Linked DNA regions of Homo sapiens: region 1 is linked to region 2. The links come from fine-mapping of genetic effects on gene expression. A gene starts in region 2. The other region holds a variant in brackets. All regions are shown on one strand. Distances are between the middles of the regions.

Region 1 (5,375 bases), 22 kb before region 2:
CAGTGTATGAGCTACAAGTAAAGTTTTACTCTTTTTTTCTCTTCTTTTCTGGAATACTTTTTAAATGATGTAATATATCCCCTACGGAAGATTAATTTGAACATAGTTGTTTTAAAGAATAAAGATCACCCAAGCCAGTGACTCACCCCTGTAGTTCCAACATTTTGTGAGGCCAAGGTGGGAAGACCACTTGAGGCAGAAGTTTGAGACCAGCCTGGGCAACATAGGAAGACCTCATCTCTCAAATAAATAAAATAAAACAAATAAATATAAATAATAAAATAAGCCGTGTGTGGTGGCACATGCCTGTAATCTCAGCTATTCCAGAGGCTGAAGCAAGAGGATCACTTGAGACCAGGAGGTTGAGATCAACACATAAGACCCCGTCTCTTAAAAAAAAAACGAAAAAAAAATTATTTGGGTGTGGTGCTGGCACATGCCTGTCATCCCATCCCACATCTCAGTTACTTGTGGGGCTGAGGCAGGAGGATAGCTTGAGCCTGGGAGTTTGAGGCTGCAGTGAGTGTGATCACACCATACTCCAGCCTGGGCGACAAAGCAAGACCCTGTTTTCAAAAAAAAAAAAAAATCCTGGGCAACACGGCAAGACCCCATCTCTACAAAAAATACAAAAATTAGCAAGGTGTGGTTGTGCAAGCCTGTAATCCCAGCTACTCGGGAGGCTGAGATAGGAGGATCACTTGAACCTGGGAGACAGAGGCTGCAGTGAGCCGAGATCCTGTCACCACACTCCAGCTTGGGTGACAGAGCAAGACCCTGTCTAAAAGAACAAACAAACAAAACAAAGAAAAGAAAAATCACTTGTAATTTTTTTTTTAAGTGAGTCATCAGAAGGGACTGGACTCTCCCACCCCAATCCAAAGAGGACAGGGGTCGAGGCCACTCCGTGCACAAACCCTTAGGGGCTCCCTGAATGTGCAAGAGGAAGGACAATGGTTTGGCGCCAAATGCCGCCGTCACGGGGACAGGCTGGGGTGCTCTTTTCCCAAAGGCACAAATGTGTTTAAAAAGCAAATGATAGCCAGGCGTCGTGGCATGCACCTGTAATCCCAGCTACCAGGGAGGCTGAGGAAGGAGAATCACTTGAACCCGGAAGGTGGAGGTTTCAGTGAGCTGAGATCATGCCACTGCACTCAAGCCTGGGCAACAGAGCAAGACTCCATCTCAAAACAATAATAATAAAATAAAAATAAAAATAAAAAGCAAATGACCAGAAGGACACTTGGTGTGTGGCGAGCCAGGGCAAGTGACCCAGATGGAATGTCAACGGGATCGGGCTCCGGCCACTCCCTGCCCGCACAGGGACCAGCGCTTTGCACATGCCCTTATGGCAGGGGCAACGTGACCTGAGTCAAATCTCAGGCTGATCACTCTGATTTGAAGGAAATGAGGGCGGGGGGCAGACCCTCGTCAGCGTTCTTTCACCCAAAACCCGGCTGCTTTAACTGTTTCCCAAGTTCCCCCCTCAGAAGGAAGTCCTTTTCGAAAGAAAGGGCAAAGTGAGAGAAGAGAGGAGTCAGTGAGAAAGCAAGTGGGCATGTAGATGACTGATGCTCACATTATCTGAGCCACACCCACTGCCCGACTCTCTGTTCCTCACACCGGCAGTTTCCAGGCTCAGGAGAAAGCCGGCAAGCCCCACCACCTTGGGAACAACTCTATTATACAAACAGCTTTCCAACAAGGCTAAAGTCGCCCGGGCGTGATGGGTCATGCCTGTAATCCCAGCACTTTGGGAAGCTGAGGGAGGCAGATTGCTTGAAGCCGGAAGTTTGAGACCAGCCTGGGCAACATAGTGAGACTCCCATCTCTACTAAAAATAAAAAAATTTGTCAGGTGTGGTGGTGTACGCCTGTGGTCCCAGCTATTCAGGAGGCTGAGGTGGGAGGATCACCTGAGCCCAGGAAGGTCAAGGCTGCAGTGAGCTGTGATCACATCACTGCAATCCAGCCTGAGTGATAAAAGTGAGACCCTGTCTCATAATAAGCAAAAACAAAAAAACAAAGTTAAAGTCTCCATTTCAACTTGCTTTCTCAGAGCCTCCACCGATAGTCTTGGAAAAAATATATATATATATATATTTAATATATATAAACGTATAATATAAATGTATTATATATGTATATATATTTATATGTGTGTGTGTATATATACACACATATATACACACACATATAAATACATACATATATATATACACACATATATACACACACACACACATATATATACACACACACATATATATACACACATATATATATACACACATATATATATACACATTTCTTTTGCAAGTCCTTTGTTTTTTTTTGAGACACAGTCTCCCTCTGTTGCCCAGGCTGGAGTGCAGCAGCGTCTGATCTTGGCTCACTGCAACCTCTGCCTCCCGGGTTCAAGTGATTTCCTGCCTCAGCCTCCCAAGTAGCTGGGATTACAGGCGTGTGCCACCATGCCTGGCTAATTTTTGTATTTTTAATAGACATGGGGTTTCA[T/C]CATGTTGGTCAGACTGGTCTCGAACTCCTGACCTTGTGATCCACCCACCTGGGCCTCCCCAAGCGCTGGGATTACAGGTGTGAGACACCACACCTGGTGCAAGTCCTTTTTAAAAACGCTTTTCACAATTTCAAAACAAATTAAAATCCAACCTTCTGATAAAATACACCCATATGCACACTGCACACACATGTATGTACTCACAGGCACACACACACAAAGCACGCATGCACACCAGTCTCTATGCAGAGACTATCTCTGGAAAGGAACATAAAGAAATCAGGACCAGTGGCTGCCTCTGGAACAAAAACTGGGTGGTGGGAGACTCATTTTCCATAGTGCATTTTTTTGTACCATGAACATATGTTTCATGTTCAAAAAACCCCAAAAACCTCCTTTTTTAGAATGCCTTAAAGAACTGACTTAGTAAACAACACTAAGGTAAACTACAATTTTAGAATGAGCGTCTCTTCCCCTGTAATTCTGGAAGGAGCCTTTTTGTCTAATTGCATACTACCGCCCCTAAGGAAGCGACTTTATTTTTTCACTTCATAGCTGCGGTTGGGCCATCTAAATATTAAACATCCTGCTTTCTTTTAAATTCATTGTGAAGCATTCCCCCACATGGGCTTCTGTAAACAGCTTCTAGCGTGCCAACTTCATCCAATATCTCCCCCTCTCCGGAGCCTCATGGCACCCTACCAGAGCCTTTGCACCATCGTGCCTCTGTTTCCCCGATCCACCCCAAGGATGGCCTCCGACAGGGCTTCTTATAGGACTGGATGCTTGAGTGGGCTACTCCCTCCAACCTCCCAGTCAGTGGGCCGGGATGGGTTGACCCAGCTCCTGCACCCCAAGAAGCCTGGTGTCACTCCCCCACGCATCACACCATGCAGATGCACCACGGGTATCTCATGGGTGTCACCACAGAGTGTGCAATGACATAGCATGCCGCGCTGCAGGAGTGCAGCCAGGACCCGGAAGGGGGAGCAGGTCCCATGGCCCTCGTCCTGGCCCATCTGCACGCGAGGTGTCTGCAGTGACGTCAGGTGACTCTACTCTTAGCATCCATTCTCAAGACCTCCCCGGCCAGCCTTACCCTCCATGGGAAATACTGGTCCTCCAGGCGACCGATTCCCAGGCACCCTCGGATGTTCTTGCCCCATACAAACAGCTCTCCTTTGTCTGCAAAGGGAGGAAAACAGGGGTTGGTTGGGACTGTGTGAAGAACAAGTCTCCAAGGAGAGGATGGGTCATGAGAACAGGCTTTCTAGAACCAGATACCTACAGAGCCCACTGTTCAGCTTTTACCAGGCGTTCATGCTTTCTTTGAAGGCAAAAGTAAGGGTCTGAGATGCTGTCCCCATATCGAAAACACATCCACGGCCAGGACTTCTGCTGCATCCACCCACGTGGGAGATGAGCACTCAAATGAAGATGGGGCAGGGGGCAGTGCACGGGGCTGGGGGTGATGCATGGAGCTGGGGTCTGGGGGTGGTGCACGGGGCTGGGGGTGGTGCATGGAGCTGGGGTCTGGGGGTGGTGGACAGGGCTGGGGGTGGTGCATGGAGCTGGGGTCTGGGGGTGGTGGACAGGGCTGGGGGTAGTGCATGGAGTTGGGGTCTGGGGGTGGTGGACAGGTCTGGGGGTGGTGCATGGAGCTGGGGTCTGGGGGTGGTGCACGGGGCTGGAGGTCACTGATGCACACGGCCCACTCTGCTCACCCCTTGTGCCCCGCCCACAATCGTGTGCCACCAAACTCTGCCTTCCACAAATCCTGGCGACACCCTGGGCTTCCTGATTTGACAGTGAAAAGTAAGACAATTTGTCATTCCTGGATTGATTGTCCATATCTTGGGAGCATTCAGCCACAGGGCATCTAATGACCAAGTGCCTGCTTGTGCTGGGTCTAGGTCTGTGTTCCAGGAGCTGGGGACTGGCCAGAGACGGAACAGACAGATGATTTTAATATATGTTTACAAACTGTAAAAACTGTCATGAAGAAAAAGTACAAGATGCTGTTTAAGAGGTCAACCCAGGAGATGGCCTCTCCTAGCCCGGCCTTCAGGTGGGACTCTGTCTGCACCAGCTGGGGCACTCCTGGGCCCATGTCACCATCAGCTGTTGGGCAAAAGGCTTGGGTCATGGGAGGCAGAGGAAGTGACATGGAAAAGCCAGGACTACAAGACCTGGGGCTGATGAAGTACGGAATAATTACAAGCTGTCTTAGGCCCCTGATCTAAGCATGCCCCTTGTTCTCCACACTCAGACCTTAGATAGTTTTTGTGTGTGTGTGTTTGTTTGCTTTTGAGACAGGGTCTCACTCTGCTGCCCAGGCTGCGACGCAGTGGCACAAACATAGCTCACTGCAGCCTTGAACTCTCAAACTCAAGCAGTCCTTCCACCTCAGCCTCCAGAGTAGCTGGGACTACAGGCGCACACCACCACACCCAGCTAATTTCTGTATTTTTTGTAGAAAAGGGATCTCACTATGTTGCCTAGGCTAGTCTCGAACTCCTGGGCTTTGAGGGATCCTCTCATCTTGGCCTCCCAAAGTGCTGGGATTACAAGCATGAGCCACTGCACCCAGCTAGCCCTTAGGTGTTTAATAGAACAATTCGGCCTGGCTCCCCAAAATGCTAGCAGACCACAGGATAAACCAACCAACTCTAATTCCCAGATGGCTATCTGCAAATGCCAGGCACACAGGCAGGAAGACAGCTAGGCTCTGTCTACCAACAGGCAGTAACTCACCCTTAGAAGGAGGCCTGTTAAGTCTCGGGGAGAAATCCAGAAAGGAATTTCATTTCGCTGTGACCTGAAATGGCTACATGGCATGAGGGCAAATAGAAAAGCCT
Region 2 (5,375 bases):
ATGCTCACTTTTATCTTTCCGGCTCCTGTGAAATCCAAGCTGAGAATCTTTGTTGAGTCCCATCCCCCAGACTTTCGTAACATCCGCAGTCTTAGAGGACAGCAGTGTGAATCCATAGCCGCAAGCAGCAGATGAAATCTGAAAAGCAGTTCCCACAAAGCATGAACTGATTTATAATGTCAAGTTTGTTCAGTAGTAAATGACAGGTTATTTATCAAATCCAAGAACACATACTATTTACGGGGGTTTTGTTTTTGTTTTTGAGACAGTCTCACTCTGTTGCCCAGGCTGGAGTGCAGTGGCGCAATCTCGGCTCACTGCAATCTCCATCTCCCAGGTTCAAGCCTCCCAAGTAGCTGGGACTACAGGTGTGCACACCACGTCTGGCTAACTTCTGTATTTTTAGTAGAGACAGAATTTCACTATGTTGGCCCAGGTGATCTCAAATTCCCGGCCTCAAGTGATCTGTCCGCCTTGGCTTCCCAAGGTGCTGGGACTATATGCGTCAGCCACCGTGCCTGGCCCAAGAACACATATTATTAAGACAGCAACTAGCATTTATTGAGCATTTACTATATGTTTGATAAGTATTATCTCATTTAATCTTTATAATCACTCTATGAAGGGTGATTTACACATAGACCATAAATATAGTCTATTTATGGTCTATGTCAGCTTACCACTAGGTATTACCATCCCCATTCACCAAGATCAAGACACTATCTAGCAGCAGCCGAGTACGGTGGCTCACACCTGTAATCCCAGCACTTTGGGAGGCTGAGGCAGGCAGATCACTTGAGGTCAGGAGTTTGAGACCCGCTTTGGCCAACATGGTGAAACCCCATCTCTACTAAAAATACAAAAATTAGCTAGGCATGGTGGCGTGCGCCTGTAATCTCAGCTACTCGGGAGGCAGGAGAAGTGCTTGAACCTGGGAGGCAGAGGTTGCAGTGAGCCAAGATGGCGCCACTGCATTCCAGCCTGGGTGACAGAATAAGACTCTGTCTCAAAAACAAAACAAAACAAAACAAAACAAAAAACACCACCATCTCTTAGCGCGGTAGGTAAGTTGACAGATCTCCTTAGTTTTGAATCCTGGCCCCATCCTTACCAACTGTGTGATCTGAGATAGATTACTTTACCTCTATATCTGTTTCTCCTTCTCTAAAAAGTAAAGATGATAATAGTACCATCTCTCTCACTAAGCTGTTGTGAAGACTAAACGAGTTAATATAGCTAAAGCCCTTATAGGGAATAGTACCCATCTCAAGGTAAGAGCTATATTTTGAGCCTAGGCAACAAAGTGACAACCTGTCTCTATGAAAAAATCAAAATTTAAGCTTGGTCCCAGCTACATGGGAGGCTGAAGCAGGAGGATCACTTGAATCCAGGAGGTCGAGGCTGCAGTGACCCATGATCACGCCACTGTACTCCAGCCTGGGCAACAGAGCCAGATCAAAAAAAAAAAACAAACCTATATTTTGTACTCTATTTTGTATTTTAAATTTATACATATACATATACATATACATATATATATATATATATATATATATATATGGAGAGAGAGAGAGACAGAGAGATGAGTTCTCACTGTGTTACCCAGGCTGGTCTCAAACTCTTGAACTCAAATGATCCTCCTGCCTTGGCCTCCCAAAGTGCTGAAATTACAGGCATGAGCTACCGCACCTGGCCTATATTGTATGCTTTTTGTTGTTGTTGTTTAGTTTTTGTTATTGCTTTTGTTATTATATTTTCTATTTCTTATTGCTGTTAGCAGTAGTATAAGGCAGATGAGAAAGTGTGGCTTCTAAAGGTTGAGTAACTTGACTGCATGCTTTTCACTGACACTACACCGTTACGTACTCAGGCTATTACCATGAAAAGGAAAACTCAGTACTACAGCTACTGTGAATTTAACACAGTGACAACCCCAAGGTCTTTGTTGGGTGTTTTAACTACACTCTCATCAATCCTCCCTTCACTGACCCGATGAGAAAACCGGGGCTTCCAGTGAGGTTGGATATAGACCAAAGATGGTTTGATTTTAAAATCAATCCTCTTTCAGCCAGGCACAGTGGCTCACGCCTGTAATCCCAGCACTTTGGGAGGCCAAGGCGGGCGGATCGCTTGAGTTCAGTTCAAGACCAGTCTAGCAAACATGGCGAAACCCCATCTCTACTAAAAATACAAAAATTTGCCGGGCTAGGTGGCAGGACGATCTCTTGAGCCCAGGAGGTCGAGGCTGCAGTGAGCTATGATGACACCACTGCACTCCAGCCTGAGCGACAGAGCGAGACCCTGTCTCTAAAAAATAAATTAAAACAAAAAAATCCCCTTTCTGAGTTGTTCATTGAAACACCTCAGCTGGTATACATTTTCAATGGACTTTTGAATTTTGCTTTCCTAACATCAGAACTCCTGCAGTCACGCTGGCCTGAGTGAGAATTCCACCGCATATAAACAGCTAGCAGCGGTGGGGCCTCGGGCCTCAACCTCTCTGGGCCTCCCCTTCCTTCCCTGTAATTGGGAATAACTGTCGACTCACTGGGTGCTAAGCGAATGACACGACCCGGCACAACATCTGGCACTGCCACCCAATAAATGTTGATGGCCACCCCTAACGCCTTCCCCTCCTGGGCTTGCAGCCAGCTCGAGGGTCGTCCTGCCGGAAGTCTGTCCACCCAGAGGAGCCAACTTCTTGAAGAGAGCCGAACAGGTCGAGGGAGGCCGGGAGCGCGGAAGAGAGAGAAGGAGAGAAGGAGGAAGCCGCGGCCTGCACCTTTTGGTCCAGCTCCAGGCGATAGGGCACGGGCTGGATCCTGCGGCGCGGTCGGGCGCCGGCGCGGGGCCCGGGCCCGGAGCTGGGCACCACAAAGGAAGGCACGCCCAGCGCCCCCGAGAAGCTGAAGCCCCACACGAAGACGCGATCGGCGCGGGCAGCGCGCTCGCCCACGTACTGGACCACGGGCACCTCCGCCTCGGCTTCTGCCGCTTCGCGCCGGCTCCGGGAGCGCCCGGCCGCCGTCCAGTGCCCTCGCCCCAGCCCCGGCCCGCTCAGCCGCCGCCCCAGCCGAGCCCCAGCCACCAACGCCACCAGCGCCATCCTCCGTTCCGCGCCTCAGCAGCCTCTGGGCGCCGCCATCTTGCGTGACCCTTAACACCAGTCCTCGCCGGAAGAGGCTACGGCCACTTTTACTCCTGGTTGAAGGCAAAGGCGCTGACGGCAGCCCAAGGCTCAGGGAGGCGTGGCGTGGCGATGGTGAGGGGCGGGGTTAGGGGCGGGATTAGGATTCTTGTCCCTTAGCGAAACTGCGTGTCCTGTTTTGCTCCCTTGCTATTGCCCCGCGACATTTCTTACCTGGCCTTGCTGCAGCCGTCTCCGCTCCGGTCTGCTCCCACGCCGCCCCAGGCCGTCCTCCAGCGACAGCGAGCTGGAGTGGACGATTCCCTGCTGCCTTCGCATCCCCTGCCCAGGTCCCCTCAAACCTATCGACAGGCTCACTGCAACCTCCCCCTCCTGGGTTCAAGTGACTCTCGTGTCTCAGCCTCCCGAGTAGCTGGGACCACAGGCGTACGCCACCACGCCCGGCTAATTTTTGTATTTTTAGTAGAGACAGGGTTTCACGATGTTGGCCAGGTTGGTTTTGAACTCCTGACCTCCAGTGATCCACCCACCTCGGCCTCCCAAAGTGCTGGGATTACAGGCATAAGCCACCGCCCCCAGCCTGTGCAGGCCTGTTTTATGGAAGATGACTGGGGAAAACCCACTAATAAAATGTGGTGACCACAAGACTGCTCATGGAAAGCCTCTTACTACAGGGAGTAAAATTCATGAAGGCACTGAAACCACCAGTCTCCCGGGCTATGAAATGTATTCTCTGCGGCGGACCCAGTCTTCCAGCACTTTGGAAGACAAAGGTGGGAGAATCACTTGAGAGTTCGAGACCAGCCTGGGCAAATAGTGGGACCCTTTCTCTACAAAAAAATTTAAAAATTAGCTCGGCGTGATGGTGTGCACCTGTGGTGCCAGCTACTTAGGAGACTGAGGCAGGTGGATGGCTTAAGCCCAGGAGTTCGAGGCTGCAGTGAGCCATGATTGCACCACTGCACTCCAGCCAGGACAGCAGAGTGAGACCCTGTCTCTGAAAAAAAAAAAAATTAAATTAAATGTAAATATAAAAGTAAAAATAAATGTGTCTATGGACCCGCCTGGTAGTAAGTTCCCTGCCACCATTTGGGATAGATAAACTTAGCCATTCACATCGGTCCCCTTACCCTGTCTCGACCCAGCCAGTATTCAATCAGAACACACACTGTTTGCCACATGGAATTGTAGATGCTAGTGCCACCTTCAAAGATGTAAAAGATTCAGAGGGGTGGTGATTCCTATCCAATGGGTAGCTCCCCATTGAGTTCACCTGTTTGGCTCCTAAAAAAACTGATGGATTGGCCAGGCATAGTGGCTCACACCTGTAATCCCAGCATTTTGGGAGGGCAAGGCAGGCACATCACGAGGTCAAGAGATGGAGACCATCCTGGCCAACATAGTAAAACCCCATTTCTACTGAAAATACAAAAATTAGCTGGGCGTGGTGGAACGCACTGTAGTCTCAGCTACTTGGGAGGCTGAGGCAGGAGAATAGCTTGAACCCGGGAGGCGGAGGTTGCAGTGAGCCGAGATCGCACCACTGCACTCCAGCCTGGCGACAGAGCGAGGCTCCGTCTCAAAAAATAAAAAAAGATGGACTGTGGTAGGGGACAGGGGACCACCATACATTTAGGCAAGTGCATGGTCCAACTCATAGCTGCTGTGTCAAGCGTGCCGTCTGTTTTTTTGTTCGTTTGTTTGTTTTTTGAGACAGAGTCTCAGTCTATCACCCAGGCTTGAGTACGGTGACATGATCTCGACTCACTGCAACCTCCGCCTCCTGGGTTCAAGCAATTCTCCTGCCTCAGCCTCCCAAGTAGTTGGGATTACAGGCGTGCACAACCACACCCGGTTAATTTTTTGTATTTTTAGTAGAGACGGAATTTCACCATGGTGGCCATGACTGGTCCCCAACTCCTGACCTCAGGTGATCTGCCCGCCTCCACCTCCCAAAGTGCTGAGATTACAGGCCTGAGCCACCGCGCCCAGCCATGGCATCTGTTTTACCAGAAGAGATCAACACACCCTCTGAAACATGATACAGGACACTGATCTGGTGAGTGGGTTCTTTTCAATCCCTAACAGAAAAGAGGACCAAAAACAGTTTGCCTCTGCGTGAAGGAAAGCATTACTCATGAACTCTCCCACTGTCTCACTCCCGACACCACCCACATTAAGTATCTGTTACAAGACCTTGTCTCCAGCCGGGCGCGGTGGCTCATGC

Evidence for each region. PIP is the estimated chance that this variant, and not a neighbour inherited with it, causes the effect.
Region 1: its variant is the best candidate, but not a certain one, in a credible set for the expression of RCC1L in monocytes (TOPMed, PIP 0.73).

Annotation. Positions count from the first base shown.
Region 1 is chr7:75,049,095-75,054,469 of GRCh38, forward strand. RCC1L (RCC1 like) reads right to left here. Exons shown (of 11, transcript NM_030798.5): 10 at 3,617-3,702. Among named protein-coding and RNA genes, the nearest start is that of RCC1L, 22 kb to the right of the region's middle. The variant T/C (reference allele first, on the strand shown) is at 2,517.
Region 2 is chr7:75,070,632-75,076,006 of GRCh38, forward strand. RCC1L (RCC1 like) reads right to left here and starts at 3,171. Exons shown (of 11, transcript NM_030798.5): 1 at 2,783-3,171; 2 at 9-138. The coding sequence starts at 3,106. RefSeq lists a silencer at 2,857-3,076.